Homo sapiens: one gene and its partner. The protein of the gene in region 1 purifies or fractionates together with the protein of each later gene. This does not show direct contact. Each region holds a gene or a part of one and is shown on either strand. Other genes may lie near its edges.

Evidence for each region.
Region 2: the proteins of MCTS1 (region 1) and CTPS2 purify together in Homo sapiens (co-immunoprecipitation; one large-scale study listed by IntAct). This does not show direct contact.

Annotation. Positions count from the first base shown.
Region 1 is NC_000023.11:120,602,612-120,607,304, forward strand, and holds the start of MCTS1 (malignant T-cell-amplified sequence 1), read left to right. Parts: upstream 1-1,489; 5' UTR 1,490-1,625; coding exon 1,626-1,636; intron 1,637-2,087; exon of another isoform or gene 2,088-2,242; coding exon of another isoform or gene 2,243-2,256; intron 2,257-2,795; coding exon 2,796-2,948; intron 2,949-3,467; coding exon 3,468-3,565; intron 3,566-4,693. UniProt on the Homo sapiens protein: Translation regulator forming a complex with DENR to promote translation reinitiation.
Region 2 is NC_000023.11:16,587,105-16,590,674, reverse strand, and holds the end of CTPS2 (CTP synthase 2), read left to right. Parts: intron 1-899; 3' UTR 900-2,676; downstream 2,677-3,570. UniProt on the Homo sapiens protein: Catalyzes the ATP-dependent amination of UTP to CTP with either L-glutamine or ammonia as the source of nitrogen. Constitutes the rate-limiting enzyme in the synthesis of cytosine nucleotides.

The DNA of each region.
Region 1 (4,693 bases):
GGGGAGACTGGTGTATTTGTTTTGGATGTCAGTGCCTACCCACCCCACCTCCTGCGTAGGGCCTTTTCAGGTTTTTAAATTTTTCCATGATTTCTTGGCTGATCAAAACCCTTGATTAGGCCAGGCACAGTAGCTCATGGCTGTAATCCCAACACTTCGGGAGGCTGAGTTCGGGGAATTGCTCGAGGCCAGGAGTTCAAGATCAGTCTGGGCAACTTAGTGAGACCCTGCCTGTCTCTACAAAAAATTAAAATTCGCCAGGTGTGGTAGTGCATGCCTGTAGTACCAACTACTCCGGAGGCTGAGGCGGGAGGGTCACTTGAGCCTGGGAAGTTGCAACTCCAATGAACCGTGATCATGCCACTGCACTCCAGCCTAGGTGACAGAGTGAGATGCTGTCTCTAAAACAAAAAACAAAGTGAAACTCTTGATTGGCATAATTTTGTTTCTCTATCAGCTTTATTTTTAAAAAAATTACATAAGTAAAACATGTCTCTTTAGCTATTATCTCTTAAATCAGATTACCTTCTGTAATAATTCTATGGGAATTATTCTACGGGAGCACAGTCATTCACGCTTGTAACCCCAGCACTTTGGGATGCCAAGGTGGGAGGACTGCTTGAGCCCAGGACTTTGCAACCAGCCTGAGCAACATAGACCCCGTCTCTACAATAATAATAATAATAATAAAAATAAAAAAATTAACCGGGCATGATGGTGTGTGCCTGTAGTCCATGCTACTTGGGAGGCTGAAGTGGGAAGATCCCTTGAGCCAAGGAGGTAGAGGCTGCAAGTGAGCCATGATAGCACCACCGCATTCAAGCCTGGGCAAGAGTGAGGCCCTGTCTCAATAAAAACCCGCAAAAAACTTTGGGAGCATCGTACGGTTGCCAGTGAATAAGGTTATAAGATAAAAAACAGGATGCTCAATTAAATTCAGCTAAACAAGCGCTGTATATTTTTAGTGTAAGTATATCCAAAATATTAATGAGGTATACTTACACTAAAACAAATATTCATTGTTTACCTGAAATGCAAATTTAAATAGGCATCCTGTATTTTCATTTGCTAAACCTGGCAATCCTACCAGCACTTTAACATGAAGCCATGAGGGTTGCCTGGATTCATGCTGGTAGGTAAGCACCAATCCATTCGGTTGCCTCAGACAGGACAGAAACCATTCCCTCTAAAAAAATCGTTTACTTTGACGATAGGTAGCAACGAAGCACGGAAGAATCTTGACCCTTTGAGGAACCCGTAACTGACGCAAGTGCCATAAATGCTACTTTGATTGATTCTCCGCCCCCTCCATTCTTCTCTTCCTGCAATTGCTCTATCACTTCTTCCCTCTCAAGTCCCGCCCTTTCAGCTACCTCCAACTGCTGAGGAACCGGTTGCCTAAAAGGAGCCGGCAAAAGCGCCTACGTGGAGTCCAGAGGAGCGGAAGTAGTCAGATTTGACTGAGAGCCGTAAAGCGCGGCTGGCTCTCGTTTTCCGGATAACGACTACAGCTCCGACTGTCAGTGCCGGCCTTCCTCGTGTGAGGGGATCTGCCGGACCCCTGCAAATTCAATTTCTTTCCCATTCCGGGCCCTTCCCTATCGTCGCCCCCTTCACCTTGGATCATGTTCAAGAAGTAAGGACATGCTGTGGCCTCCATCGGCTGCTCACAAAGGCGGTGGGGTGGGGGTGGGGAAGAGGGCGAGAGCTAAGATCCTCTTTCTCTCTCCCCCGCCCCTGCCATCCTGACTCCCTAAGGTTTTCTATAGTACTATGCTCTCACTCCCAACTTGAACACTTCTTTAAGCTTTCCATCCGTAGTCCTTAATTGGGTTTCAGTCCCTCCACTCCCATTGTTTTTTCTCCTTACCCCTCTTTCTCTTTTGCCCCCTCCCCCAATTCTGTCTCCATTCCTAGGGTTCTACCAATCACATCCGTGCACTGTGATTTAGAGGCATATTCTCTGTAGCTGAGAGGGGAGCCCTGCGCTCACTGCCATATGTTTATTAGTTATGAACTGAATAAAGGAAGGCTTGACTTCCTGGGTCATGGGAGTGAAGGAGTCTGGGTGACAGGAAGCAAGCGGCCTGTCATGCCTATTGCCTAGCTGCCAGATTAACCTTGCCTTGAAAATAACGATTGCCCCATAGGCTATTCAGTGTAAGGAAGACAAAAATTCCTTGGGAACCTACTAGTGGGTTTGCCTTCCAGATTTGGTAGACGCAAAAAGCAAAGGGGGAACATGGGCAAAGGAAGGTGGGTTTTGTGCATGAAATTTTGAGCAAAAACGAATAGGGATCTTAGAAATCATTATTATCATCACTTAAAAAAAATCTCAGCAGATTACATAGCCTAGCAGGGGCCGATTTTCTATGTTATGCTTGGGTTGGTCTTTTGTATCTCAAGAATTGAGGGTTTTGTTTTCTGATCTCAGGTTTTATTATTGGTGGGAGCCTGTGTTTCTTCCTGGGTAGAATTGAATAAGATTTTCCAGGAAAGGCATTTGTGTAGCTAATTACAGATTATGGTGCAAAGTATGTCTCATATTCCTCCCCCTAACCCCAGCTAATTGCTGTATACTTGACAGTTTATTTCAATATTGTATTAAGACATTGGTTTTGTGCTGGACAGAGTAAAAGGGAGATGGTATTTTTTTTTAAAAGAACAATTTATTTCATAATTAAGTATCTAAATACTTGGTTGGGAATAAATGACTAATTAGAACAGTACCTTTAGGTATTCTGATACCTCTACTTAGAAATGCCTTTTCTTTTCTTGCAAAAATTACTTGGCAGATTTGATGAAAAAGAAAATGTGTCCAACTGCATCCAGTTGAAAACTTCAGTTATTAAGGGTATTAAGAATCAATTGATAGAGCAATTTCCAGGTATTGAACCATGGCTTAATCAAATCATGCCTAAGAAAGATCCTGTCAAAATAGTCCGATGGTAAGTCTTTGTTTTTGTCTGTGTAAAGCTCGGTATAGCTGAATATTTAATGATTAGATTGCACTCATACTAAATGGAATTATTTTCAGATTAACTATTGATAGATTAATAATGGGGTAGACACAGAATAACTCTAAAACTCCAATATTTGTATTTTCAAAGATTTTCTATGTCCCTGAAAAAATGTGGCTTTGTGTATTGATTGTTCTAGTAAAGAGTTAAATGTTTTAGTTCAGAGTTGGATTTAATTTATTTCAGTTTGTTGTTTAGAGAATTGTTTTATTGAATTACCTAACAATGGAATTAATAAAATGTGAAATAAAATTGGTTGTAGCAGGTAATATTTTTCTTTTTTTCTCTACTGGACTTGCATGATAGGAAAAACAATGTAAACAATATTTTTTGGCCAGGATTTTTACTGACTTTTTAAGAAAGTTTATCACTGTATATGCGTGTTTTATATTGTGAATTTTTGAAAGAAAATATCTAACTTGGTACTTTGTGACATTTGTCTTACAGCCATGAACATATAGAAATCCTTACAGTAAATGGAGAATTACTCTTTTTTAGACAAAGAGAAGGGCCTTTTTATCCAACCCTAAGATTACTTCACAAATGTAAGGTTTTTTTATTTTTATTTTTTGAAATTTTACTCCTATTGCAATATTCAAATGTAAAGTCTTGTAAGAAATATGCATTTAATCAGATAAGACACTGCTGGGGGAGAAAAACAGAAATATGCATTTGGGAATACTGAAAGACACAAAAAGAGTTTAGAGTGACTTCTGATAATTGACTCATTATTTATTAGTACTAGGTAATAATGGATGTAAAACTAAAATGAATGCCCATCTTGTGGTAAATCTGAAAAATGCAGATTCTCTCATGCATTCCAGAAAGCCCAAGAAAGATCATTTATTAATTCATTCAACAAATATTTATTGCCGGGCACGGAGGCTCACGCCTGTAATCCCAGCACTTTGGGAGGCCAAGGCGGGTGGATCACCTGAGATCAGGAGTTCGAGACCAGCCTGGCCAACATGGTGAAACCCCGTCTCTACTAAACATACAAAAGTTAGCCGGGCGTGGTCACAGGTGCCTGTAATCCCAGCTACTCGGGAGGCTGAGGCAGGAGAATCACTTCAACCCGCGAGGCGGAGGTTGCAGTGAGCAGAGATCACGCCATTGCACTCTAGCCTGGGGAACAAGAGCGAGACTTAGTCTCAAAAAAAAAAAAAAAAAAAAAAAGACAAATATTTATTGAACTTACTATGTGCTAGGCATTCAGCTAGGTGCTGAGAATACAATGGGAAGCAAAGACATTGTCTCTGTCCTTAAGAAACTAATAGTCTAGTTTGGAGAATAAACAACAATTAGATAATTACGCAAATATGTATTTACAAACTGTGATAAGCATTGTGAGCATTTTCATCTTTTATATTTGTATCTATTTGCCTAATAGAGAAAAGTCTATATATGGGAAAGCATTGACTAAGTGTCCTTCCGTCCAGGTATTTCCTGTGATGTGTGTAAATGCATTTTTTTTTAAAATTGGGCTCTCTGTTACATAGTTTTTAAAAATTGATACGTCATAGCTGTACATTGTCTGCTGTTGTGGTGCCTGTATCCCCCACCACCTATATATATTTATAATAGTTGTACATATTTTAGGGGTACATGTGATATTTGATACCTTTATACAGCGTGTAATGATCAAATCAGGGTAATTAGGGTATCTGTCACCT
Region 2 (3,570 bases), about 100 Mb from region 1:
GACTCGCCTCACAGGATCTTGCCCCTTTGAGATACTCCCATTTGACTGGCACAGTTAGCAGGACACGCATGACAGCCCATGACAGAGTTAGTGTTTGGGGAAAATGGAATGCACCTTGGGCCAGGAAAAAAAAAATATAAGTACACCTATAAATGTATATGTGGGGGCTGTTGTGGTTAGAGTCATCATAGTCTAGGCCAGGGGTTGACAGACTTTCTGTAAGGTCAGAGAGTAAATATCTTAGGCTTATGAGCCATGCAGTTCCTGCGGCAACTACTCAATTCTGCTGTTGTAGCAGGAAAGCAACCATAGACAATATGTAAGTGAACAAGCATGGCTGTGTTCCAATAAAATTTTATTTACAAAAACAGTTTGCTGATCCCTGGTCTAGGCCACTCATAGAAGAGCAGATTTCCTTGGATTTGTATAAAATAAAATTAAAATAAAATAAAACATAAAATAAAATAAAATAAAATAGTATTTGATTTCTTTGTAGGGAGATGCAAGAGACAGGCTTAGTGTCCAAGGGCAGCTTATTTTTCCATTGCTCTATTATGCACTATTAGAGAGAATACCAGCCTGGATAGCTTCAGTAAATTTATGCTCAGTGGCAGATAGTGCCTGGATTGCCCTAGGCATTATGGCAGGCCTTGACTTGTATAAGCTGTTCTTTAGCAGAGACAGCAGCTTTTGGAAGACTTGTAAAGTGTTCATTGCTTTCCTGTGAGGTCTCTTCATGTTTATCAGGGAAGATGCAAAGCTGTGTCTATTTAGTTTTGCCTCAAACATGGAGACCCTTTGGAGCAAGCCAAAATGGTGCAAAGGTTAGCTGGAGATATTGAAAGACTTGTATTATTCAGTTCCTGGTGTTGCTAATATTTATATTCTTTTCTTTTAAGCCTCTGAAATAATTGAAGGCAAGATGAAGGAACTATCTGAAGAAATCACTACACTCTTAGAGAATCCCTCTGTTCTCCAGCAAACATGGGATGTAAAGCCTCACAGGGAATCTGATAATACATACTTCTGTCAACCAGAACCAGAGGGGTAGTTTTCTTTTCCCTCCAGAGGCAGCCTTTGGTACTTAAAATATCTGTAGCTGATTAAATTTTTCCCAACAACCTCACTGGGGAGAAAGTGTGTTCATGTTTTGTCCAGCGGATCAGGATGTTAGGATGACGAGCAAGAGTCCAGGTCACTGTGCCTTTGCTGTGTTGTATGGAAAGGATGGCAGGGAACATGCTGTAAGTAATTTTGAGTAAGAAAATGAGTCACTGTGTTACCTGGAACTCAGCCACAGATTTGTGTGTGGTCCAAGATCATTGCAGTTTCTCACCCTGTTTATTTCCTGGTAAAAGTAAAATTGAATAGGTCCAAGACTTGGGGGTGGCAAGTAAGGCTTTGCCTCAGGCACAAAATTTAAGGGGGCTCCAAAAAACTCAGGAATCAAGATCAGCAATACAGTCTGAGTATCCCTTATGTGAAATGCTTGGGGCTAGAAGTGTTTTGAATTTCAGATTTTGGAATATTTGCATATACATGCGATATCTTGGGGATGAGACTCAAGACTAAACATGAAATTCATTTATGCTTCATATACACCTTATATACATAGCCTAAAGGTAATTTGATACAATATTTTAAATAATTTTGTGCATGAAACAAAGTTTCGACTGCATTTTGACTGTGATTTCTGGCATGAGATCAGTTATGGAATTTTCCACTTCTAGCGTCATGTTGGCATTCAGAAATTTTGAAATTTTGGAGCATTTTGGATTTTCAGATTAGGGATGCTCAACCTGTATATATATTTTTTAATCGACGTGAAATTCACGTAACATAGAATTAACCATTTTGAAGTGAACAATTTGGTTGCATTCACTGATGTTGAGCAACCACCACCTTTAACTATTTCCAAAACATTTTCATCACTCCAAAATAAATGCCTGTACACACTAGCAGTCACTCCCTATCTTCCCCTCCACCTGTCCGCTGGCAACCACTGATCTCCTTTTTATTTCTGTGGCTTTTTCTATTCTGGATATTTCATATAAGTGGAATTACACAATATATGTGGTCTTTTGTGTCTGGCTTCTTCTGAGACAGTAGGAAGGGGGGCTTGGCTTTGGCTCACCCCCACTAGAGCATTTTTTCATGCATTCCCACTGATCACAAAACCCATACTACTACCTCATTGACACCATACCTGCTAACCTCGAGGCTTTAGTCATACAAAGAAAATGGCCTTTCTGTATTGTTCTTCTGTGCTCTCATAATGCTTAACCATGTCTTTTACTTAAACAATTCCAGGAACTGGCCTTAGGAGATCCAAATAGGGAACCAAGATTGCAGAGTGTCCCATCTTGGGAGGGAATGCTGAATAATTAATTGATTTACAGCCTTGTTGCCGCTGGCCAGACCACCAGGTGGCCCATTACTCGAGATGATCATCACAACCAGATGATGCTAACCTATATCCTCTACCCTTCGCGTGCTTTGTCTGGGAAGTCTTTTGGCCCCATGTCAGTTTCTATTGCATTGAGAGCCCAAGAGCCCCTGGTCAGTCAGGCTTCCATTTAGCATGGCGTTTGCAAGGTTTACCCATGTTGTAGCATGTGTCAGAATTTCATTCCTTTCTATGGCTGAATAAAATTCCATTGTATGAATATACCACAATTTGTTTCACCTTTTGGTTATTGTGACTAATACTATGAACAATCACATGCAAATGTTTGTTGGAATGCCTGTTTTTAATTCTTTTGGGGTGTATGCCTAGGAGTGGAATTGCTGTGTCATATGTAATTCTCTTTAACTTCTGAAGAAGGATCAGTAATATTTTAATGTAGTATTATTTTAAAAAATCAAAATTAGGCCAGGTGCGGTGGCTCACACCTGTAATCCCAGCACTTTGGGAGGCCAAGGCGGGCGGATCATGAAGTCAGGAATTCGAGACCAGCCTGGCCAACATGGTGAAACCCCGTCTCTACCTAAAATACAAAAATTAGCTGGGCATGGTGGCCCGTGCCTGTAATCCCAGCTACTTGGGAGGATGAAGCAGGAGAATTGCTTGAGCCCGGGAGGCGGAGGTTGCAGTGAGCTGAGATTGCACCATTGCACTCCAGCCTGAGCGACAAGAGCAAGACTCCGTCTCAAAAAAAAAAAAAAAAAAAATCAAAATGAAATAATTCACATTTGAACACAAAATCAAATTTTCAAATAAAGACAGGATCCAGCTCTGCACCTCCTTCACCTCCCCCAGTCCTTGCCCCATTCTCTGACGTTCTTATCTAGTATGTTTTCTACTTTTTCCTGTTGAATGTGCTTGAGATGACTTAGTTGTTGCCTACATTTAAGCTTTCTAATACTAATTTAAATATTTTAATTGTTCAGTTAATTTTTTTGTGGTGGTTTTGCTCCCCCCCCAACTTTTTTTTAATGCCATAAGGTATTATGGCCTTATTTTGTAAGATGCCACAGAAAATTCATCTACCAAGCACATACAAAAATGAAATGAGTAATTCTGGTAAACAAAAAAATTAAAGAGCTTTAGGGCCCTGCTTGCGAAAATTA